Linked DNA regions of Homo sapiens. The protein of the gene in region 5 purifies or fractionates together with the protein of the main gene of each other region. This does not show direct contact. Each region holds a gene or a part of one and is shown on either strand. Other genes may lie near its edges.

Region 1 (3,500 bases), on a different chromosome or scaffold from region 5:
GGGATTACAGGCACGTGCCACCACGCACAGCTAATTTTTGTATTTTTAGTAGAGACAGGGTTTCACTGTGTTGGCCAGGACAGTCTCGATCTCCTGACCTCGTGATCTGCCTGCCTCGGCCTCCCAAAGTGCTGGGATTACAGGTGTGAGCCACCGCACCCGGCAAGACTTACTTTCCTAGCGTTCTCCTCCCATATCCTCTCCCCATCTCATTGGGGGGGAAAATAAGACAAAAATTCTCCAACAAAGGCTTTTCTCCTCAAACCTTTTTCATTTCCCTCTCTGATGAGCTCTGCAGTGTGATTCAAAGGTGTGTGGCCAAGTGTCTCTGATGATCCAACAAGACAGTTCACAGCTTTGCTCCTCACTTTAGCTGGTTTTCAAAAATGCTGTAAGGAAACATTCTCTGCCAATAGCAAAAGCCTGAAGCGACTCCATAAGTGGGTGAAGGAGCCGTTTTTCCCAAATCATTATTTTCTTCTGCAAACCAGTCAGAATGTCTTTTAAAACATGTTACCTAATACCAATAGAAGTTTGTGTTTCTTGCCTAGGCTTGTGGTTCCAATACAGATGGTTCTAGTCACCCTCATTTTTAACATAGTTTCTAAAAGACAAAAGTGGAGTTTTTACCTTTGGAAGCGGGTTTAGGGATATTCCCATTGTGGTCTTGGTTGTTTGTTTTCATTGGACTGTGTGTTTCAGTCTCTTCTGGACATAAGTAAACCTCAATGGGCCCTTGGGTACTTGCCAAATGTATTTGTAGGCTCTATGAACAGAAGTGGGAGAAGTTCGAATCAGAAGTTCTTTTAGAAATAAAAGCCATAGTAATTCTTGTCTAAAAATGGAAAGTAAGAACAATGTTCGTTTTTCACTTGCTTTTTCCCTACTAGTCCAACTCTATGAAAGACTGTCATCCTCTAGAGCAGGGGTCAGCAAACCACAGCCTAAGGGCCAAATCCAGTTCACCAAGTGGCTTTGTAAATAAAGTTTTATTGGAAGAGAGTCACATCCATTCCCATTGTTTATTATTGCCTCTGGCTGTTTTCGTATCACAATGTCAGAGGTGCACAGTTGAATAGTCTAGACACAGGCTGTACGGCTCGCAAAGCCAAAAATATTTACTATCTACCTGGCACTTCAATGAAAAAGTTTGCTGAGTCCTGCCCTAGAGAAAGAAAACTATTTTAGTGGGGCTTGGGGGAGAGGGGAGTCATTCTGAAAATAGCACAATGGGTGAGGTGAATTGTGTTCTTTGGATATATTCTTTTTCTGCAAATTATTACAAGGTCCTTTAAGTGTTCCAAATTCAGTATCTCCATGTTATTGTTCCTTTATGGTAGGACTTTTTCATGTTGAACTGTATACTGATGAATAGTATTCTTAAGTGCTAGGAACTGCATCTATTAAGAGAATGCAGCATACCAACATTTAAAAATCTTTTTCATCTAGGTCAAAGAGCTATTATTATCTTTTAAGGTAAGAAGTCTACCCTAGATGGAAGCGTGTAACTTTCATTCTCTTTTTATCTCCTATGCATTTTCTTTTTACTACAACTCTTTATGTTATAGTTGTAGTCTAGGCCTCTATTATCCAAGTATATCTGAAAATTACAAAAATATGCCCCCTACTTTCTTGCAATATTCTAGTCTATCAGCTAACCCAAAGCCCCATGTGATCTCTCAAAATGTTATAAGTTAGGGAGAGACTTTAAAACATTTATATATCTGTTCGTGGTGGGGACCATATACAGGATAATCAATATAAACTTTCCAAAGTGATTCAAATTGATCAAAACCGTTGATGACAAATTATGAAAAAGAGAAAGTATGAGAGGGACAGCGCATCATATACCACTTTGAACTGAACATCCTGCTAGGTCAAAGTTAGGTTGTTTGAATACTCAATGAACATCAAACCATTGAAATGTTTTCAAATGTATGGTTAAGTAAAATAAATGGGAAAGAACCATCAAGTTCATAGGAGGGGGACAGACTTTAACTATGAGTCAATGAGTCATTCAATTTCAGGCATTCCACAAAGATCTTTGCAGATGAACAAAGACGCTGTCTCCTTACCTCTATTGAGTCAGGCACTTCAAGTCTTGTTTCTGGAGGGGCTTTCACAACTATAACAGTTTGGTCTTTAAGGCCACTAATTTTTCGAATATCTTGATATGTAACATAAGCTAACGTAAAGAGTGTCAAGGAATCTTCCATCTAATTACCTCAGATATAAGTATGATGAAAATGACAAAATAGATGCATGGAATATTTTAAAGTATTTTATGACTTAGAAGTATGCATATGTGGCCGGGCGCGGTGGCTCACACCTGTAATCCCAGCACTTTGGGAGGCCGAGGCGGGTGGATCATGAGGTCAGGAGATGGAGACCAACCTGGCTAACACGGTGAAACCCCGTCTCTACTAAAAATACAAAAAGTTAGCCAGGCGTGGTGGCGGGCGCCTGTAGTCCCAGCTACTCGGGAGGCTGAGGCCGGAGAATGGCATGAACCCGGGAGGTGGAGCTTGCAGTGAGACGAGATCGCGCCACTGCACTCCAGCCTGGGCGACAGAGCGAGACTCCTTCTCAAAAAAGTATGTGTATGTCTCCCCTTCTGGATGTGCAAATGTTTAGGGTCTCCCATGAATCTTCATTTCTGGTTGACACTCTAAACAACTAAAGAAATGAATAGCTTTATCCCGCCCATTTCTAAAAAGACTATGGCTATTTAAAATATTAAACATAGAAACAGAACAGTTAAAATAAATGATCATAAGAAAATAAAAAACTAAGTGGTCAGAAATTTTATCTTGAAGCCAGGGTCCTTTGCAGCACAGGCATTCCATGAACTCCAATAAAGTGTTCTGTCACTCAAACTGAATGATGGCAGATTCCAATTTGCAGGAAAAAAAAATGTAATCTCTATTAGCCATAATTTTTTTGAAACTCCAGTTACTTCTATCTACAAGCAAGTGTCAGCAGCCACCAAGTAAATAAATAAGTAACAAATACATTAGTGGAGGAACTCAGAATACTGCTCAGGCAGACAGCTTGTTTTCTTAAGTGCACCTGGGCTGGTTGTGATTATGTACTGCCTACAGAAAAGAGTGTCATTATTTCTGTTAGAAAAATTATGCTTTGCGTGATACTATATTAACTCTATCAATATTTCAGTGTTCATGAGGAAGAAAGCAGTTTCCAGGTGCTCTGCGACTTGAATGAATTTGAGAAACACTGATTTAGGAAAAGAGAAAAGTATAATATCTCAGTACTCTTGGTAGTTATTTCCTTTTTCTTTTTGAGACAGAATCTTGCTCTGTCACCCAGGCTGGAGTTCAGTGGCCCAATCTCAGCTCACTGCAACCTCCGTCTCTGGGGTTAAATGATTCTCGTGCCTCAGCCTCCCAAACAGATGGGACTACAGGCGTGCACCACCACACCCGGCTAATTTTTTTTATTTTTAGTAGAGATGGGGTTTTACCCTGTTGCCCAGGCTGGTC
Region 2 (3,500 bases), on a different chromosome or scaffold from region 5:
CAAGAAGCTGCTCAGGCCCAGGCTGGGGGTGAGAGCCCCAGGGTCTGGTCCTGTCCCTATCCTCAGCCCCTGAGAAGGCAGCTCAGAACCAGGTTTGAACACCACTGATTTAAGCAATCCTTAGCCCTGGTGGTGGGGGTCTTAGCAAGAGGAGGCTCCCTCCAAGACAAACTGTAGTTTTTTCCTCTAAGACCCAACTATTCCCTGTTGGAGCTACTCACACCAAACCCATTTCCCCATGAGTCTAACAGTTCTCTCTTCTGGCTTTAGACCACATGGCTTTTAAACATGAGAAGAGTTCATCCTCACCACCTTGAGAAAAATGTAAAAGTGAACTACCTTAAGACACCTTCTCACCAATCACACAGGCAAAGAGAAAAGTCTTACTAAGCCAGAATGTGGGAAAGGGCGAGGGGAAATGGGCTCTCTTGTATGTTACCCTTGGGAGTATAAATTGGTATGGTTCAAAAAATTAGCCAGGAGTGGTGGTGGGCGCCTGTAGTCCCAGCTACTTGGGAGGCTGAGGCAGGAGAATGGCGTGAACCCGGGAGGCGGAGCTTGCAGTGGGCCGAGATTGCACCACTGCACTCCAGCCTGGGCAACACAGCAAGACTCCATCTCAAAAAAGTAAAATAAATTGGTATGGTTATAATCTTCAGAGGGCACTTTGGCAATATAGATTAAAAAAAAAATTTTTTTTTTTGAGACGGAGTCTCGCTCTGTCACCTGGGCTGGAGTGCAGTGGCATGATCTCGGCTCACTGCAAGCTCCGCCTCCCGGGTTCACGCCATTCTCCTGCCTCAGCCTCCCAAGTAGCTGGGACTACAGGTGCCCGCCACCACGCCCGGCTAATTTTTTCTATTTTAGTAGAGATGGGGTTTCACCTTGTTAGCCAGGATGGTCTCGATCTCCTGACCTCGTGATCCGCCCGCCTCGGCCTCCCAAAGTGCTGGGATTACAGGCGTGAGCCACCGCACCCGGCCTAGATTAAAATTTTACATGGCTACCATTTGACCCAAAATCTCCATTTCTAGGAATCTGCTCTACAGATAACACCCATTTGTAAGACTATGCATTGTAGCCTTTTTTTGTAGTATCAAGGAATGGGAAACAATCTGAATGTCCATCAGTGGGAAGCTGGTTAAATACATTATCCTACATCTACACAATAGAATACCCTGACACCGTGAAAAAAATAAAGGAAGCTTTAAAATAAGGTATGCAGGCCAAGCACAGTAGCTCACACCTGTAATACCAGCACTTCAGGAGGCCAAGGCCAGTGCATCATTTGAGGCCAGGAGTTTGAGACCAGCCTGGCCAACATGGCGAAACCCTGTCTCTACTAAAATACAAAAATTAGCCCGGCGTGGTGGTGGGTGCCTGTAATCCCAGCTACTTGGGAGGCTGAGGCATGAGAATCACTTGAACCTGGGAGGCAGAGTTTGCACTGAGCTGAGATTGTGCCACTGCACTCCAGCCTGGGCGACAGAGTGTGACTCTTGTCTCAAAATAAATAAATAAAATAGATATGCAACTACAACTATTAGAGAGGCCGTGAATGTGAGTAAATGTGTATAGTTCTATATAACATATGCCTGTACATGTGTTATAACATCTCCTAGACAGCATCTCTAGGAGAACATTTTTTCTTTTTTTTTTTTTTGAGACAGAGTCTTGTCTGTCACCCAGGCTGGAGTGCAGTGGTGCGATCTCAGCTCACTGCAACCTCTGCCTCCCGGGTTCATGTCATTCTACTGCCTCAGCCTCCCTAGTAGCTGGGACTACAGGCGCCCGCCAGCACACGTGGCTAATTTTTTGTATTTGTAGTAGAGACGGGGTTTCACTGTGTTAGCCAGGATGGTCTCAATCTCCTGACCTCGTGATCCACCCGCCTTGGCCTCCCAAAGTGCTAGGATTACAGGTGTGAGCCACCAGGCCCGACCCAAGGAGAATATAGTAAGAACCCATAATGGGCCTGGCACGGTGGCTCACACCTGTAACCCCAGCACTTTGGGACTCCGAAGTGGGTGGATCACGAGGTCAGAAGTTCAAGACCACTCCGGCCAACATAGTGAACCCCATCTCTACTAAAAATACAAAATATTAGCCGGGTGTGATGGTGTGCGCCTGTAATCCCAGCTACTTGGGAGGCTGAGGCAGAAGAATCGTATGAACCCAGGAGGCGGAGGTTGCAGTCAGCCAAGATTGCACCGTTGCACTCCAGCCCGGGTGACAGTACAAGACCCCGTCTCAAAAAAAAAAAGAACTCATAATGAAGGCTGCCTCTGAGGGGAAACTTAAGGGTGGGAAGGATGGAGAGTTACTTTTTTTTTTTTTCTATAACAAAATGCTGTAAATTGGAGACTTTTCACTGTACACACCTTTTAGAACTATTAGAATGTTCTCTCTGGTGTGTATTACCTTTATAAGAACAATTAAAACAAGAACCCCCTCCTTTGGTCCCCAGGCTTTGGCAGGTGGCATCTCTGCAAGCTCTCCAAGGAAGAAACCTCCACCCCACCAGTCTCCCCAGTCCTTTCTGCTTTTCCTCCATCCTTGCAACCGTGGTGGAAGCGGCCCAGCTCCAGGTATACAAAGGTGGCTGGAAGCCATGCTGAGCGCATCCGTAGCCCCTCTTTCCACCTAGGTGTGGCTGGGTCCCAGAAGAGTCTGGATCCCTCAGAAGGACCCCAAAGCCCCAGGGTACCCAGCCCCAGACAAGACCCCAGACACGCAGCCTGGCCTACCGCCCACAGCTCTTTCACTCCCTCAATGTGGCTTGGGCCAGGCAAGGCAAAACCCCTCTCCTCTTTTCAGAACAGGGGTTCAGTGATCCCTGCTTGCTTAGTCCCCCAGATGGACCTGACTTTACAAAACAGAGAGGAGCCTTCTTCTGGTAACCCATCACCTCTTCCAGGCAGCCCCCAGTGACACTGTCTGGCTCAGAGCACAGTGTATCTGACTTAGGGCCTGATCCTCTGCTGCTTCACACCATGGTCCAGACGGGCTGGGCTGGTTCCCTGGTGGAACTGGAAGTTCATGCTCTGCTCAAACTGGCCTCTGCACCATCCCTTCACTGGTATACTGGCCTCTGCACCATCCCTTCACTGGTATGCACCGGTACAGCGGTGCTGGCTGTCTATATCCAGTGTCCTTTCTGACTGGTCAGTCCCTATGCCGGATGGTTATTAATATTTGGAGTATCATTCCTGCCTCCACCTGAGCCTGACCTCTCCCGCCCTGCTCCTTCCTTCCTTTCAGCAAAGATTTATTAGGTACCTAAAACCTGGCGGCAGGCACGTGTCAGGCACTGGCGTGTCCCACTCACCCCAACATGTACCCCAGGCTCTTCAACCTCATGTTGGCCCTACTCCTCCATACTTCCCAAGTCCTGTCCATCTTTCAGGTTCCACTTTCCAAACCACCTTCTCCAGGAAACCAGTTGCAGCATAGCTCCAAGCTACACGGGTGCCTCCATCTATAACCAACCCCTCGCTGCA
Region 3 (3,500 bases), on a different chromosome or scaffold from region 5:
GTCATGATATCAAGATGCTTCATCCACTTATTCTTCTGCTATTTCTTCTAGCTGAGGGTAATACAACTGACCCACTCTTCTGATCTCAGTTTTTTTTTTTCTAGTAGCAGTGATTAAGTTACAGGGATCCATCTATACTTCTTTGCCAGTACCCCCGTGGCCACTGGCAAAGTTTGATGGACTGCTGGCTGGCACTGTGGCCATAGAAGAGATGAGGCTAGGCTGGGTGTGGTGCTTCACACCTATAATCCCAGCACATTGTGAGGCCGAGGCAAGAGGATTGCTTGAGCCCAAGAGTTCAAGACCAGCCTGGATGACACAATGAGACCCTATCTCTACAAAAATTTCAAAAATTATTCAGGCGTGGTAGCACATGCCTGTACTCCCAGCTACTTGGGAGGCTGCGGCAGGAGGATCACGTAAGCCCAAAGGTTGAGGCTGCAGTAAGCCTTGTTTATGTCACTGGACTCCAGTCTGGGTGACAGAGTGAGACCCGGCCTCAAGACAAAAAAAAAAAAAGATATGAGGCTAATTGACTGTGTATATGAATTGGATGAACTCATAATTCTACTTTGCTACAACTCAGAGAGCCAACAACTAAAAACAATTCTACAGGCAGTTACCATGGTTAACAAACACCAAGAGGGCCATCAGGGATGTAGCAGAGAGGGAATGGTGGAAGGTGCCTAACAAGGCAATTCATTCATCTCTTGTTCATTTCATTGGGCAGTGTTTTCACTTCCTGGTACCCAGCTCTCAAGACATTCCATCAGGCGTGAGAGCTGGTTTTCTGTTTCCAACATCCTGTAGCTACAGATCCATTTCCAAGCTTCACACCCACCTTGCCTGTCTTTCCTCTGCCAACACCCACCTGGCCACTGGTCCTTACCAACCCAAGAACAGCCTATCTTTTCCTGGCTCCTCACTTCCTTCTCATGTAATCTAGGTAATATGTTCCTTTAGGAAACTGTCTGCCTTATCCCAGATCTTTAACATAAATCAAGACATGGCTAACATATAAAAATAACTGGCTGGGCGCAGTGGCTCATGCCTGTAATCCCAGCACTTGGGAGGCTGAGGTGGGCAGATCACCTGAGGTCAGGAGTTCAAGACCAGCCTGACCAACATGGAGAAACACCATCTCTACTACAAAAAAAAAAAAAATACAAAATTAGCCGGGCGTGGTGGCGCATGCCTGTAATCCCAGCTACTTGGGAGGCTGAAGCAGGAGAAACACTTGAACCCGGGAGGCAGAGGTTGCGGTGAGCCGAGATCGCGCCACTGCACTCCAGCCTGGGCAACAATAGTGAAACTCGGTCTCAAAAAAAAAAAAATTACCAAATTTTAAGATGCTCTGATCTGTATACTGCTTACGGGTTCTTTTCTCAATTTTAATGAATAACTTCAAAGACTGAAAAAATACCTTATAATTTTAAGGAAATGAAAAACATCATGGTCCTTAGCACAACACTAAAATTAATTAAAAAATTAATCTTCTATAAAAAAAGACTTTTATTAGGAACAGCATTCTACTTTTAACTTTTATGAATATGCAGTTTAGGGAGCGCTTCCTTTGAGTCCATATGCATGAAAGTAGCCCCACAGCTATATTTATAAAGTGATTTTTTTTTTTTTTTTAGACAGAATTTCGCTCTTGTTGCTCAGGCTGGAGTGCAATGGGTGATCTCAGCTCACTGCAACCTCCGCCTCCTGGGTTCAAGAGATTCTCCTGCCTCAGCCTCCCGAGTAGCTGGGATTACAGGCGCCTGCCATCACGCCCAGATATTTTTTTGTATTTTTAGTACAGATGGGGTTTCACTATGTTGGCCAGGCTGGTCTCAAAATCCTGACCTTAAGTGATCCACCCATCTTGGTCTCCCATGGGATTACAGGCATAAGCCACAGCGCCCAGCTCATAAAGTGATTTAAAAAACATTATTTCTAGGATAATTCAATGACAGCTTAGCCTTCACTAAAAACTTTTGGAGCTTCTAGTTTAAAAACAAAAAAAACATGGCCAGGCGCGGTGGCTCACACCTGTAATCCCAGCACTTTGGGAGGCAGAAGGGGGAATCACTTGAGGTCAGGAGTTCGAGACGAGCCTGGCCAATATGGTGAAATCCCATCTCTACTAAAAATACAAAAATTAGCCAGGCACGGTGGCTCATGCCTGTATCCTAGCACTTTGGGAGGCTGAGGTGGGCAGATCACCTGAGGTCAGGAGTTCGAGACCAGCCTGACCAACATGGACAAACCCTGTCTCTATAAAAACACAAAATGAGCCAGACATGGTGGCGCATGCCTGTAATCCCAGCTACTCGGGAGGCTGAGGCAGGAGAATCGCTTGAACCCAGGAAGTGGAGGTTGTGGTGAGCTGAGATCGCGCCATTGCACTCCAGCCTGGGCAACAGGAGCGAAACTCCATCTCAAAAAGCAAACAAACAAAAATTAGCCAGGCATGGTGGTACATGCCTGTAATGCAGCTACTTGGGAAGCTGAGGCAGGAGAATTTATTGAACCTGGGAGACAGAGGCCACAGTGAGCCGAGATCATGCCACTGCACTCCAGCCTGGATGACAGAGTGAGACTCTGTCTCAAAAAAAAACCCAAATACATTGTGCACATGTACCCTAAAACTTAAAGTATAAAAAAAAAAAAACCCAAAAACCAAAAGACAAAAAACCTAGGCAAATATATATGATAGATATCATAAAGTTGATGTTTTGAAAATAAGTTATGATGCATGGATTTCTTTTAAAAAGGTTGCAAAGCTTAATATGAAGGGGTCTGTTTAGTTATTTCACATCATAAGTTTCATAAGCTGCTACTGTGAAAAAGTTACCATCTTACAAGACTGCTGCTAAGGCTGGGCACGGTGGCTCATGCCTGTAATCCTAGCACTTTGGGAGGCCGAGGCGGGTGGATGACCTGAGGTCGGGAGTTCAAGACCAGCCTGACTAACATGGAGAAACCCTCTATCTACTAAAAATACAAAATTAGCTGGGTGAGGTGGCGCATGCCTGTAATCCTAGCTACTCGAGAGGCTGAGGCAGGAGAATCACTTGAACCTGGGAGGCGTAGGTTGCGGTGAGTTGAGATCGCCTCATTGCACCCCAGCCTGGGCAACAAGAGCGAGGAAAGAAAAAAAAAAAAAGATTGCTGCTAAAACATCTTAAAATCTCAGACTAAAAGGAATCTCTTCCAAATTGAGTTCCCAATTTGAAACAAGAACATGTAGTTATGTTTTACTACATTTTAACTTAAACATGAATATAAAAATATGGGAAAATGAGCTTCAAAATGAACTTTAAATGAAATTATGAAATCAAAGACCCCAGAAATTAAAATGTGATTCATTTTCCCATAAATTTACATTCTTATATATTCTCTATTGAAAGTCAAGGTAAATGTAATTTACGATTTATTCAAACTGAAAAAGTTGCTGGGCATGGCAGCTCACACCTATAATCCCAGTACTCGAGAGCTGAGGTGGGAGAATC
Region 4 (3,985 bases), on a different chromosome or scaffold from region 5:
CTCATTATAATCTGAGAAAAAAATTGTGATAAAACAAAATTATCTTACTTGAATTGTTAGAAATCCTTGTTTTAGGAAGTGTGTGTAGATGCATGAAGTCTGAGTGAGATCCCAGGAAGAAAATGAATGAGGGGAAAAAAGTCATCCTATCACAGGAAACCTTTTTCTACTCTGAGGGGGAACACTGTTCAAAATAAGGGAAATACATTTCACAGAGTTAAATCACTTACACAGAAGACAGTTGGTTAAAGATCTGGACATGTTAGCTGAGCATATAAATTCAATATGAAGTGCTAATGTGAGGCAGCAGGCAAGAATGCTAATGTAAATGTAGACTGCAAGAATAGATCAGGAGAAGTTACAGCATCTTTATTCTCTATAACAGTGAACCCACTCTAGCATATTTGATCCTGCTCAGTTCAGGTGTGATTTTTTAGATTTTTTTTTGTTGTAACAATGATACATGATTTTTATGGAATATTTATAAAATACAAAAACAGGGAACCATCCACAATCCCACAAGTAAAGGGCAACAAATTAATATTTTATTGTATTTCCTTCTTCTTCTTCTTTTTTTTTTTTTTTTTTTGAGATGGAGTTTCCCTCTGTTGCCCAGGCTAGAGTGCAGTGGCATGATCTCAGCTCACTGCAACCTCCACCTCCCAGGTTCAAGCGATTCTCATGCCTCAGCCTCCCCAGTAGCTGGGACTACAGGCGTCCACCACCACACCTGGCTAATTTTTGTATTTTTAGTAGAGATGGGGTTTAACTATGTTGGCCAGGCTGATCTCAAATTCCTGACCTCAAGTGATCCCTCGCCTCAGCTTCCCAAAGTGCTAGGATTACAGGCTTGAGCCACTATGCCTGGCCTCTTTGTCTTTTTTCTACACATAAATTAGATGTTAGTTTTTGAATTTTCACAGTTGTGATGTTACATACACAATTCTGTACTGTTTCAAAAGCTTTATAGTATTCTAAATAAATGTATCCCATTTTATTCAACTCTTCTCCCATTTTTAGACACCTTACTAGGTTTCAGATTTTTCACAAAAACAACATAGGCAAAATACTGATCATTATTGAAGTGGGGTAATGGGTACGTGGGGGGCTCACTGATTCTATTTTTGTGTATGTTAAAAAATTTCATTACAAAAGTTCAAATGTTGTCACAAGTGTAAATAATGCTATCACTACCATCTTTCTTCATATTTTCTGCATTACGAATTATTTCTGTGTGAAAATTTTCAGATGTACTTTTGTGAAATTAAGTAATTGACATTTCTAAAGCTTGTGAAATATATCCTTGTTGCTTCCAAATGATTTTATCAAATTGTACCATCCTTTGACTCTGGTACCTACTTCACTGTGCACTCCTCAACATTAGCAACATCATTTTTTTAAAAATATAAAAACTAATTTAAAAAATCAATTATATGACTGATGAAAATTTTATTGCTATTATTATATTTTGCATTTGATTCTAAGAAAACTGTGCTTCTCTCTTTTTTTTTTTTTTGAGACGGAGTCTCGCTCTGTTGCCCAGGCTGGAGTGCAATAGCTCGATCTCGGCTCATTGCAACCTCCACCTCCCAGGTTCAAACGATTCTCCTGCCTCAGCCTCTCAAGTAGCTGGGATTACAGGCTCCCGCCACCACGCCAGGCTAATTTTTGTATTTTTTTAGTACAGACAGGGTTTCACCATGTTGGCCAGGCTGGTCTTGAACTCCCTGACCTCAGGTGATCCGCCTGCCTTGGCCTTCCAAAGTGCTGGGATTACAGGCGTGACCCACCGCACCCGGCCTGCCAACTGTGCCTCTCTCGAGAATCATCTGTTCGGAAAAATAACTGACATCAATCGAGTGCTTACTATGTACCAGGTATCATGCTCATGATTTTGCATACTTCACCTCCTTTCATCCTCACAACCACCTGGAGATACAGTACTTAAGACTGTACACATTTTCGATGAAAAAAAAATGAGGCTTAGCGAAGTTAAGGGATTTCCCTAAGGACACCTACTTAGCTGGCACAGCTCTAGATTAGGATTCAGGTCTGACTTGAGAACTGCATTACTATAAATGTACTCTAGGAATCCAGTTTTGGGAGAATCTCTTAAAAACGGGAGTGGATCCAGAAGAGAATTTCCAGAATAAAGAGTCTTAGACAGGAAGCCAGGTGAAAGAACCAGGGAGAGTAAACTCAAAAGAAGGGCGTGGAAGGGCAAAAGGCAGCTGTCTTCCAATGTGGAGAGACTGGAGTCGTTTTGAGTAAAACCAGACGATAAAAGTTAGGCGAGGAAGACCTCGGTTCTCTCCAAAATGTAAAGAGGCTGCTCTGTGAGGTACTGAGCCCCTGTCAACAGCCAGATCCCAGAGATGAGCCCTCCATTCTAACTCCGAGAATCGAGAGGGCTCAATCCGTAAACAAACATAAACTGGGGCTCTGACCCTGGCGGTGCCCTGAGGTTAAGGTTTTTCAGGTCGGGAGATCGGCGTGGGTCCAAGGCGGCTGTCCTGGGGCTTCGCCGCCACCTTGGACGCGATCCGGGGTGGGACTCTGCGTGGGCCGCCCCAGCGTCGCGACCGGACTTCAGGAACACAGACGCTCACGCTGACAGGGTCGGTAGCTGACCCGAGACGCGGTAAGCGCGAAGGCAGCCTCCTCGACCCAAGCCTGAAGCCTGACTAACCCACACCGCCCTCCCCGGCGCACCCAGTGCGCGGTTACCTGCTAATGCAGGCGCCGCTCCGCCGCACTTCTCCGCGCGCCGCCGCGCCCGGCGTCCGCTCGCTGGGCCCGCCCCTCACCCTCCTCCGCGCGCCGCTGCCGTGCCCACTGCGCAAGCGCGAGGCCCCGCACCACCGAGACCTGGCGGACCCCGTTGCTAGAGCGGCAGATTGCGGCTCAAGCGTCTGAGAAAATCTAGGCTGGGGTCGAGAGTCCGCAACAGTGGCACCTGGAGCCAGACCCACCGCTTTCTGGTGTCGCGCCTTTCAACCCGGGGGGGTAGGAAGCTTTCTGTTGCTCCGCATAACTGTGGTCAGCTAATAGCTGCTGGTAAGATCAGCACGCTTTCATCAGAAATGCTACTAATACTAATGGCAGTTTGCATTTATAGAGCACTTACTATGGTCTCAGCACTGTGTAAAGCAACTTTATGTGTATTTCCTAAGTCTTGTCAAGAGCCCTTTAAGTACATTCGTTTTACTGATGAAGAAACTAGGGCCTAGAAAGGTGAAAATAACACAACCCTAAGGTCACACAAGAGATGGAGCCAAGATTCAAGCCCAGGGCGTCTGAAGCAAGACTGGCACTCCCTGCCGCCCCTCGGTGTCAGCTCCTTAACTCTGTTAGCTTTCCTGCCGTGTTTCCACCTTCATGAAGCTTTTTCAGATTACCGGGCAGAAGCCATCACTCCTTCCTTTAAACTTCCATTTCAGAATTTCTGGACATTTCCTGCTTTTTTTAGTTCCTTTATGGCCTCTCTAGGTGTGATAGATACAAAGGTAAATTAGACCGTAAAATGCAATTTAGTTCCTCTTTTGTGTGGCCATTGTCCCTACTGGGTATCTTCCTGAAAGCAGGGGCTTCAAATTTACACATACCTGGGTTAGGATCCAGGCTGCACCACTTATTAGCTCAGTGACCCTGCTGTTACTTGTTGAGTACCACTGTGTGTCTGGCACAGTGGTACGCACTAGAATGACAGAAGTGAACAAAACAGACAAGGTCCTTGCTTTCTTGGAGTGTATAACAGGGAGAATAGACAATACATATTAAGGAATAAAATAAGATAATTTCAAATAGTGAAAAATGCTATGAAAATTGGGGCGGGGGGTCAGGGAAGGCCACTTTGTGGTGCCAAATTTGAGCTGAGGCCTGAAGAGTAAGAAGCCAGCCATACAATGATCACCATCCCAGTAACTTTGACTCAAAAGTACTTCAGCACCTACTCCATGCCAGGCACTGTTCTAAGGTGCTCTTT
Region 5 (2,964 bases):
ATCTCAGCTACTCGGGAGGCTGAATCAGAATTATTTGAACCCAGGAGGCGATGTTGCAGTGAGCTGAAATCACACCACTGCACTCTAGCCTGGGCAACACAGCAAGACTCAGTCTCAAAAAAACAAAAAAAAAAAGATAATATTATTACACAGATTATCTAAGTCTAAAATTCTAACCTCCACCCTGGCTGCTTACTCTGCATCATTATCCTTCTGGGCCTAACATTAGACCTCTTAATTACCCACCTTGCCCACTACACTCTTAGTTCCAAAAAGGCAGAAATGTTTTGTTTGCTGCTGTATCACCTAGAACCTTCCATGACATAGAGGAGGACTCAAATATATGCTGATGAAAGCAAGACACCATGCATTTTTTTTTCTTAGAGATAGGGTCTTGCTCTGTGGTCCAGGCTGGAGTGCAGTGGCATCATAACAGCTCACTGCAAACCTCCTGGGTTCAAGCAGTCCTCCAGCCTTGGCCTCCTAAAGTGCTGGGATTGTGGGGATTACAAGCATGAGCCACCACGCCTGGCCCAGACACACATTATTATTATTATTATTATTATTTTTTGAAACGGAGTCTCTCTCTGTCGCCCAGGCTGGAATGCAGTGGTGAGATCTCGGCTCACTGCAAGCTCCACCTCCCAGGTTCACACCATTCTCCTGCCTCAGCCTCCCGAGTAGCTGGGACTACAGGGCGCCCACCACCACACCCGGCTAATTTTTTGTATTTTTAGTAGAGACGGGGTTTCACCGTGTTAGCCAGGATGGTTTTGATCTCCTGACCTCGTGATCCACCTGCCTCAGCCTCCCAAAGTGCTGGGATTACAGACGTGAGCCACTGCACCCGGCCCACACAAACATTATTCATCAGACTTGTTGCAAACTGCTTTTAGGACACATAAGAAAAACAAATACTTTCTCATTGTGAATGCTGAGAACATCTCCCCAAAAGCCCAGCTGCCTCCTCCTTAGGAAGATCAGCTATAGTATCTGTGCAAATTATTTCTCACACTCGCACAGGCTTGGTTCACAATCCACAACAAAATGCTTCCCGACCACTGGGCAAACAGACAAAATCCTCCTTAGCCAAAGCCAAAAAACAAGTTATAGGTGAATGAAAACTTTCAACACAGGAAAGAATGGGGGATGAGGTAAAACCTAAAGTTGCTGATCTTTAAATACTGCTATTTATCGGCTCTTCCAGAACCTTCTCCTTCTTGGTTATGGAAGTTGGTCCCCATGACGATGATGCAATGAGGGCTTTGCTTTAAGTCTGACTGAATCGGGGGACAAAGTCAAACTTGAGGTTAACAATGCCACTGGGTTAAGAAGGTGGTGGTGCCGGGCGCGGTGGCTCACACCTGTAATCTCAGCACTTTGGGAGGCTGAGGTGGGTGAATCATGAGGTCAGGAGTTCAAGACCAGCCAGGCCAACATGGTGAAACCCCACCTCTACTAAAATTACAAAAAATTAGCTGGATGTGGTGGCACGTGCCTGTAATCCCAGCTACTCAGGAGGCTGAGGCAGGAAAATCGCTTGAACCCAGGAGGCGGAGGTTGCAGTGAGCCGAGATCACATCACTGCACTCCAGCCCCGGCAACAGTGCGAGACTCCGTCTCAAAAAAAAAGTAAAAAAAAAAAGGTGACGGTGAGGCATGGAGACATTCAGGGATCTGAGTTGCTGGGGACAGGTCAGAGGCTGGCAGGAGGATGCAAAGGTCTAATCGCTGTTAAACAGCCTTCATGCCCTCCCTGCGTTGGAACTGATGTCCCTGCCGCCACCGGTGTTCCTATCCACTGGAGGGGGCAGAGCTTATTTCCCCGCCCCAGTGAGGCGGGGTGTGCTGGCGAACACAACTGGGAAGTGTGCCTGCTTGTGCATCTGCCCATGTCAGGGCAAGCGCTCCCCAGGCAGCTGCTGCCCTCAGCCTGGACAGCAGAATGAACACCCTGGCGCAGAGTGAATTCACCCTGCTGCAAGAAGCCAAGCCCAGCGGGACCCACAGCTTAGCGTCCAGCCTGGATCAGCTCAGCCCAGCATACCCATGAACACAGAAGAAATCCTCTCACCCCAGCTGCTCAGGAGGCGGAGGCAGGAGAATTGCTTGAACACGGGAGGCGGAGGTTGCAGTGAGCTGAGATCCTCCCACTGCACTCCATCCAGCCTGGGCGACAGAGCTAGACTCTGTCTCCAAAAACAAAAAGAAAACCAGAAATGCTCGGCCGCGCGCGGTGGCTCACGCCTGTAATCTCAGCACTTTGGGAGGCCAAGGCAGGCAGATCACAAGGACAGGAGATTGAGACCATCCTGGCTAACACGGTGAAACCCTGTCTCTACTAAAAATACAAAAAATTAGTTGGACGTGGTGGCGGACGCCTGTAGTCCCAGCTATTCGGGAGGCTGAGGCAGGAGAGTGGTGTGAACCTGGGAGGCGGAGCTTGCGGTGAGCCGAGATCACGCCACTGCACTCCAGCCTGGGCGACAGAGCGAGACTCCGTCTCAAAAAAAAAAAAGAAAACCAGAAATGCTCTCACGTGCCGCTGAGCTCCAGCAGCTGGTCCATGGCATCTCAGGATACTTGGCAGTCACTCACTCATACACAGCAGGAAAAACCAGAGAGAGGCATAGGACTTAGAAGTCAGGGCCAAGGTCAACGTGCCACATGGGGAGAGGAGCGGGGAGGAGACTCACATCCCATCGGTCTTCTCGGCATCCCACTCGCGCCTCCACTGGCCAGTGGGCTTGCGGTGCCTCTGCAGCCGCTCCTGGTCGATCTTCTCCCTCTCCTGCTTCCAGCGCAGGTACTCCGACCGCTCCCGGCCCGTCATGGACAACGTCATGTCTCCAGCACTGCCCAGGCCAGCTCGGCGGCCCTGCCCCCCAGCCCACAGGGAGTCAGGGTGATGTCCCGCACCCTACCCCGCCCCTAAGCCCCGAGGCACATCCACTTGCTCAGGAT
Region 6 (3,500 bases), on a different chromosome or scaffold from region 5:
GGATCTTCTCAGGAGCAGTCACACGGTACGTACGGCTCAGGCGCCTGACGGCAGCCATTGCCCCTGCGAGGACCCCGGTCCCTCTCCTCATCGTTGCCTGACGTGAGCTTTTTGTGCCCCGACAGCGAGTGGTTGTCACCCCAGGCCCTGGCGAGGGGGGCACGTGTCTCTGTCACGTGAATCCCTAGTGGGGGGGGGTGGCACAAGACTGTCACGCGAAGTCTGAGGAAGGGGGTGGCCCAGGCCCCAGGTCGGGGGTTCTTGTCGGGCGCTGGGCCTGAGTGAGCAGTAACGAAGGTGCACTCCTGACCCTGCCTGGATCTGGGGAAAACCCTCTGGCCACGGGGCCTCCACCTCCTCCCCGGAGAGGCAGGAGGAGGGGCAGGAGGGGGGCAGGAGGAGGGCCGGGCCCGGGGGGCTCCCCTCACCGAGGCGCGTGGACAGGGGCTCCGTTCCTGTGAAGCTCTCCCTGACATGCATCTTCGTCTCTCCATCCTGGCTTTCGATCTAGAGGCAGAAAAGTGCAGAAGGAAGGGAAGATCAGCTATGCCGACTTTGTCTGGTTTTTGATCTCTGAGGAAGACAAAAAAACACCGACCAGGTGGGTTCCTGCTGCGGCATGCGTTTGTCCCAGTGGAGGGGCCGGGAGCCGCCCATGTGACATGTGTCCCCAGGCGGATGCCTGCACGCCTGGTGGGGGCTGCACGGCACAGGGGGACATGTGCACGCCCGGTGGGGGCTGCACGGCACAGGGGGACATGTGCACGCCTGGTGGGGGCTGCACGGCACAGGGGGACGCGTGCGCGCCCGGTGGGGGCGGCAGGGGGCAGGGGATGCCTGCACGCCCGGTGGGGGCTGCAAGGCACAGCGGGGACGCGTGCACCCCCGGTGGGGGCTGCCTCAGGGGCTGCAGGTCACGGGCTGGGAGGGCCCAGGGCAGGGGCTGACAGAGCTCGCCGTGCCGCAGCATCGAGTACTGGTTCCGCTGCATGGACCTGGACGGGGACGGCGCCCTGTCCATGTTCGAGCTCGAGTACTTCTACGAGGAGCAGTGCCGAAGGCTGGACAGCATGGCCATCGAGGCCCTGCCCTTCCAGGACTGCCTCTGCCAGATGCTGGACCTGGTCAAGCCGAGGACTGAAGGTGATGCCCCGTGAGGGCATGGCCCAGGGTGAGGGGACGGACGGGCGAGAGGACGGCCCAGGGTGAGGGGACGGACGGGCGAGAGGACGGCCCAGGGAGAGGGGACGGATGACAGCCCAGGGAGAGGGGACGGACGGGAGGGAGGACGGCCCAGGGAGAGGGGACGGACGGGAGGGAGGACGGCCCAGGGTGAGGGGACGGACGGGAGGGGGGACGGCCCAGGGTGAGGGGACGGACGGGAGGGGGGACGGCCCAGGGTGAGGGGACGGACGGGAGGGGGGACGGCCCAGGGTGAGGGGACAGACGGGAGGGGGGACGGACCAGGGTGAGGGGACGTCCCTGTGAGGCGCTGTCCTACTGAGTTTGTGAGGAGGGCCAGCACCACAGGTGCCTAGTCTCACAGTGCAAGAACCTCCTATTCGGGGCGTCGACACCCCCCGAGGGGTGACCTAGAGAACCTAGGGCCGGAGCTCACCGGGGACGTTGGCACTGGGCTGAGGGAGCAGTTGCCACGTTCGTGCTGATGCCGCACAAGGCGGTCCTCCCCTCACCCCCCCCCCCCCCGTCTCCTCCCCTCTCACCCCGCCCCCCCCGTCTCCTCCCTTCTCACCCCCCCCGGCTCCTCCCCCCCTCTCGCCCCCCCCATCTCCTCCCCTCTCACCCCCCCCATCTCCTCCCCTCTCACCCCCCCATCTCCTCCCCTCTCACCCCCCCCATCTCCTCCCCTCTCACCCCCCCCATCTCCTCCCCTCTCACCCCCCCCATCTCCTCCCCTCTCACCCCCCCGGCTCCTCCCCTCTCACCCCCCCGGCTCCTCCCCTCTCACCCCCCCGGCTCCTCCCCTCTCACCCCCCCCAGCTCCTCCCCTCTCACCCCCCCCCGGCTCCTCCCCTCTCACCCCCCCCCGGCTCCTCCCCTCTCACCCCCCCCCGGCTCCTCCCCTCTCACCCCCTCCGGCTCCTCCCTTCTCACCCCCCCCGGCTCCTCCCCTCTCACCCCCCCCGGCTCCTCCCCTCTCACCCCCCCCGGCTCCTCCCCTCTCACCCCCCCCCCGGCTCCTCCCCTCTCACCCCCCCCCGGCTCCTCCCCTCTCACCCCCCCCCGGCTCCTCCCCTCTCACCCCCCCGGCTCCTCCCCTCTCACCCCCCCGGCTCCTCCCCTCTCATCCCCCCCCGGCTCCTCCCCTCTCACCCCCCCCGGCTCCTCCCCTCTCACCCCCCCCCGGCTCCTCCCCTCTCACCCCCCCCGGCTCCTCCCCTCTCACCCCCCCGGCTCCTCCCCTCTCACCCCCCCCCGGCTCCTCCCCTCACCCCTGTTCCCCCCACACCATCTCCCCAGCTCCTCCCACCCACCCCCGTGCCCTCTAAGGCAAAGGGGAGCCCCACCGTCCACGCCGCCTGGCTTCCTTCTGCATCTCAGAATCCAGCTCTGGGACTTTCACTTTGGAAATGGCTCTGAGGCCCGGGCACCGCCCTGCAGCCCTGCCCCCCCCGGCCATGGGGCGCCTCCTGCTGCTCAGTGTCCCCGGGACACCCTCTGGCCTCTGCCTGCACGGGGAGCTCCGTTCTCTGTAATTTCAGATCCAGCAGCGCCCCTGCTGGCCGCGCCTCCCTGCGCTAGTCCCAGTCCACGCATCCTTGGGGCACCGGTGGCCCCTAGTCGCCTCCGCATCACGGCCTCCCACGCCTCAGTCCCCACCCAGAACCAGGACACTCGCGTGTCCGCCTTTCACGTCAAACACGTGGCGTGAGAGCCCGGAGCTTCGTGCCGCGTCCTTAAGCACGTGTGACAGGACGCGCGCACCCCACACCCAGGCCCCGAAGGTGAGACCGGGCTCACGCGCCTTGGACGCACTCCCCTCCCCGCAGGGAAGATCACGCTGCAGGACCTGAAGCGCTGCAAGCTGGCTAACGTCTTCTTCGACACCTTCTTCAACATCGAGAAGTACCTCGACCACGAGCAGAAAGAGCAGATCTCCCTGCTCAGGGTGAGTGCGGCGGGCACGCGGGCCGGGCCGCGCCACGCCGTGTACGTAACCCGTGTGCTTCCTCCAGGACGGTGACAGCGGCGGCCCCGAGCTCTCGGACTGGGAGAAGTACGCGGCCGAGGAGTACGACATCCTGGTGGCCGAGGAGACTGCGGGAGAGCCCTGGGAGGACGGGTGAGTGGGGAGGACGGGTGAGTGGGGGGACGGGTCAGTGGGAGGACGGGTGAGTGGGGAGGACGGGTGAGTGGGAGGACGGGTGTGTGTGCAGCCGGGGGATGCGGGGTCAGTCAGGTGGGGTGCGCGGACACAGAGGGGCGGGGTGAGACCTGACACGGGGCCGGTGAGGTAAGGACAGCCGATGACAGGGCCG
Region 7 (3,500 bases), on a different chromosome or scaffold from region 5:
AGTGGGGCGTGTGCGTGAGTGCAGCGGAGGGGCCCGTGCTATTCTAGAACTTCCTAACCCAGTGGGGTGTGTGCGTGAGTGCAGCAGAGGGGCCCACGCTATTCTGGCAACAGTTCCCTGTTGGAATTCCTACATGAGAACGAGTGGCAAATACAGGTTTATTCCCAAATAACGAGTTAAATTCTTATAAGACATTGCTATTGAGGGTAAGAAAAGATGGGAAATAAAAAACATACAACAGGAAGAACTAATCTACTACCACGTGCCTCACATCCTGAACCCAATGCTGCCTATGACTGAGGCTTACTAAAGGTGGCTGCTCAGGATCCTCTTTGGGAAAAAACAAACAAACAAACAAAAACACTGCCAAAGTTTTTAAATACCTTCAGGCCTCTTCTGAAAAGAAAAGTTGCCTGACGAGTATCTTTCTGATGATTTAATTTATTTCCACTCCTGGTAAAATTAGCTGGAATGTTATTTCTGCAACAAAAACACATAGGCCATGCTAAGCCATTTAACTACTTTCAAACATCTTGAGGAAAAATAAGCAAAAATAGTTAAATTCATAGGCTGCAAACATGAGGTGCAAGAAACAAACAACTCTGAATTATTTGCTTATTAACATGAAGCTACTGAGATTTGATTAACAAATACCTCCCTCCGAAGCATAGCACATAACCACGTGTTAATTTCAAACCACTTTATCTTCCAAATATTCAATCCTCTAATATCCCATATATCTTCTGAAGACATTAATAATCACATTTTTAGTGCTATTTCCTATATTTGGTGAAAACATAACTTTACAATTTATAGGATTAGTACAAAGAAAAACCACACATAGGCCAAACTGAAGACGTAAAATAAACTGAAGACCAAAAATAAAGAGAAAGGTTTGAAAAATAACATCTCCTCCTCCAGCTTTCTCTTCCTTCCTCACTCAGAAACCATTATGTATTAACATAAACCATAGAGGCCAGGCATTATGGCTCACACCTGTAATCCCAGCACTTTGGGAGGTTGAGGTGAGTGGATCACTTGAGGTCAGGAGTTTGAGACCAGCCTGGGTAACATGGTAAAACCCCGTCTCTACTAAAAACACAAAAATTAGCCAGCCTTGGTGGCACACGCCTGTAGTCCCAGCTACTCAGGAGGCTGAAGCATGAGAATTGCTTCAATCAGGGAAGCAGAGGTTGCTGTGGGCCGAGATCACGCCACTGCACTCCAGCCCAGCGACACAGACTTCATCTCAAAAAATATACAAACCACAGAAAAACTTATACTCTTCTATTTCTTGTTCTTTCATGCACAGAACAATGCTCTTAATTATGACTGTCACCAATTCTTTTTTTTAATTTTAAGTTCTGAGACACGTGCTGAACGTGCAAGTTTCTTATGTAGCTATACATGTGCCATGGTGGTTTGCGGCACCTAATTTCTTTTGTTTTCTATAGGAAGTTAGTGAAGTACGAAAAATTAAAATTTCATATTTATCTATGAAATATTCAATCCTCTAACATTCCATGTCTTCAACTGATGTATTGATAAATATGAAACACTATATAAACGAGTGTTTAACAGATTCCCTAGTCTTACCTCCAATCTTTCAGAGATTCAAGTTCAAAACTGCCCTAGCTAACCCAATTAACATGTAAGTCTCACGTAAATGATGGGTTCTTATTTGAGAAGGTCCCCTTTCACAAAAGGTACTATCAAGTGATTCCCAAAAGATGATGGTTAAAACTGCAATTCCAGCCATTCCATTTTTTGTTTTTTTATTTTTATTTTTTTGAGACAGAGTCTCACTGTCACCCAGGCTGGAGTGCAGTGGCACCATCTTGACTCACTGCAACTTCCGCCCCCCAGGTTTAAGCGATTCTCCTGCCTCAGCCTCCCAAATAGCTGGAACTACAGGCATGAACCACCACGTCCAGCTAATTTTTGTATTTTTAGTAGAGATGGGGTTTCACCATGTTGGCCAGGCTGGTCTCGAACTCCTGGCCTCAGGTGATCCACACGCAGCGGCCTCCCAAAGTGCTGGGATTGCTGGCATGCACCGGTCACCACATCGGGCTAATTTTTGCATTTTTTTTTTTTTTTTTTTTTGAGACGGAGTCTCGCTCTGTCGCCCAGGCTGGAGTGCAGTGGCGGGATCTCGGCTCACTGCAAGCTCCGCCTCCCGGGTTCACGCCATTCTCCTGCCTCAGCCTCCCAAGTAGCTGGGACTACAGGCGCCCGCCACCACGCCCGGCTAATTTTTTGTATTTTTAGTAGAGACGGGGTTTCACCGTTTTTAGCCGGGATGGTCTCGATCTCCTGACCTCGTGATCCGCCCGCCTCGGCCTCCCAAAGTGCTGGGATTACAGGCGTGAGCCACCGCACCCGGCCTAATTTTTGCATTTTCAGTAGAGATGGGGTTTTGCCACATAACTCCTGACCTCAGGTGATCTGCCTGCTTTAGCCCCCCAAAGTGCTGGGAATACAGGCATGAGCCACTGTGCCCAGCCACTGCATTTTTTAAAAACCTCATTCCAGGTTTTTTTTGCTGACTTATCTTCCACGAAAGATAAATAAATAATACTTGAAACTGAATAAGGAAACTTCACACCTCATCAACTTCATCTACTTTGTCCTTACAGAGAACAGAATGCCATAACAACAGATCATAATTTTTCTTTTCTTTCTTTTTCAGAGATGGGGGTCTCACTATGTTGCCCAGCAGGTTAGCCCTGAATCCTGGGCTCATGTGATCCTCCTGCCTCAGCCTCGTAAGTAGCTGGGACCACAGGCACATGCCACTGCACCCAGCTCACAGGCCATAATTTTTGGTTTTTATTATTCAATTTAGTATAAAAATAATTTCAGTTTAACAAGTGTTCATGAAGAATTCTCCCTTTCTAGTTTGATTTTTCCACAAATAACATACATTGTGATTCAGTGTTCTAGTAAGAGCCATCCAGACTGAGTAACAAATTGAGATTTCAGAATTCTCAATTTTGAATAATTCCCACTAAGATGTTAAGAGTTCTACCAGGGCTGGGCACAGGGGCGCATGCCCGTAATCCCAGCACTTTAGGAGGCTGAGGTGGGAGGATCACTTGAGGCCAGGAATTGAGACCAGCCTGGACAACATGGTGAGACCCTGTCTCTATTAAAAAAAAAAAAAAATTAGCAGGGCATGGTGGCATGTATCTGCAGTCCCAGCTACTCAGGAGGCTGATGTGGGAGGATCGCTTGAGCCCAGGGCAGGCCAAGGCTCCAGGGAGCAGTGATGGCGCCACTGCACTCCAGCCTCAGCAACAGATCGAGAAGCCCTGTCTCAAAAAACAGGGAGAAAAAAAAGAGAGTTCTACTAAAGTGATCAGCTTTTGCAATTTTATTCCATATGTCAAAGAGGTAAAGAAGCAGAGTGATGCTTTTTAAAAAGCTTATATCGGTTAACTTCATCAGTAAGAATTCATCTAATAAACAAGCTATTACTGGATACATCCATGTGGATG

Evidence for each region.
Region 1: the proteins of CCDC9 (region 5) and E2F3 purify together in Homo sapiens (pull-down; one large-scale study listed by IntAct). This does not show direct contact.
Region 2: the proteins of CCDC9 (region 5) and KIF1C purify together in Homo sapiens (affinity purification with mass spectrometry; one large-scale study listed by BioGRID and IntAct). This does not show direct contact.
Region 3: the proteins of CCDC9 (region 5) and KCMF1 purify together in Homo sapiens (co-immunoprecipitation; one large-scale study listed by IntAct). This does not show direct contact.
Region 4: the proteins of CCDC9 (region 5) and TBCCD1 purify together in Homo sapiens (affinity purification with mass spectrometry; one large-scale study listed by BioGRID and IntAct). This does not show direct contact.
Region 6: the proteins of CCDC9 (region 5) and PPP2R3B purify together in Homo sapiens (affinity purification with mass spectrometry; one large-scale study listed by BioGRID and IntAct). This does not show direct contact.
Region 7: the proteins of CCDC9 (region 5) and FYTTD1 purify together in Homo sapiens (affinity purification with mass spectrometry; one large-scale study listed by BioGRID and IntAct). This does not show direct contact.

The regions. Positions count from the first base shown.
Region 1 is NC_000006.12:20,485,379-20,488,878, reverse strand, and holds part of E2F3 (transcription factor E2F3), read right to left. Parts: intron 2,191-3,500; coding exon 2,076-2,190; intron 767-2,075; coding exon 631-766; intron 1-630.
Region 2 is NC_000017.11:5,007,950-5,011,449, reverse strand, and holds part of KIF1C (kinesin-like protein KIF1C), read right to left. Parts: intron 1-3,500. UniProt on the Homo sapiens protein: Motor required for the retrograde transport of Golgi vesicles to the endoplasmic reticulum. Has a microtubule plus end-directed motility.
Region 3 is NC_000002.12:84,977,661-84,981,160, reverse strand, and holds part of KCMF1 (E3 ubiquitin-protein ligase KCMF1), read right to left. Parts: intron 1-3,500. UniProt on the Homo sapiens protein: E3 ubiquitin-protein ligase which accepts ubiquitin from an E2 ubiquitin-conjugating enzyme and then transfers it to targeted substrates, promoting their degradation by the proteasome.
Region 4 is NC_000003.12:186,564,540-186,568,524, forward strand, and holds the start of TBCCD1 (TBCC domain-containing protein 1), read right to left. Parts: upstream 2,801-3,985; 5' UTR 2,728-2,800; intron 1-2,727. UniProt on the Homo sapiens protein: Plays a role in the regulation of centrosome and Golgi apparatus positioning, with consequences on cell shape and cell migration.
Region 5 is NC_000019.10:47,266,525-47,269,488, reverse strand, and holds part of CCDC9 (coiled-coil domain-containing protein 9), read right to left. Parts: intron 2,879-2,964; coding exon 2,697-2,878; intron 1-2,696. UniProt on the Homo sapiens protein: Probable component of the exon junction complex (EJC), a multiprotein complex that associates immediately upstream of the exon-exon junction on mRNAs and serves as a positional landmark for the intron exon structure of genes and directs post-transcriptional processes in the cytoplasm such as mRNA export, nonsense-mediated mRNA decay (NMD) or translation.
Region 6 is NC_000023.11:338,408-341,907, reverse strand, and holds part of PPP2R3B (serine/threonine-protein phosphatase 2A regulatory subunit B'' subunit beta), read left to right. Parts: coding exon 1-25; intron 26-511; coding exon 512-601; intron 602-967; coding exon 968-1,143; intron 1,144-3,011; coding exon 3,012-3,130; intron 3,131-3,197; coding exon 3,198-3,304; intron 3,305-3,500. UniProt on the Homo sapiens protein: The B regulatory subunit might modulate substrate selectivity and catalytic activity, and might also direct the localization of the catalytic enzyme to a particular subcellular compartment.
Region 7 is NC_000003.12:197,770,383-197,773,882, reverse strand, and holds part of FYTTD1 (UAP56-interacting factor), read right to left. Parts: intron 481-3,500; coding exon 384-480; intron 1-383. UniProt on the Homo sapiens protein: Required for mRNA export from the nucleus to the cytoplasm. Acts as an adapter that uses the DDX39B/UAP56-NFX1 pathway to ensure efficient mRNA export and delivering to the nuclear pore.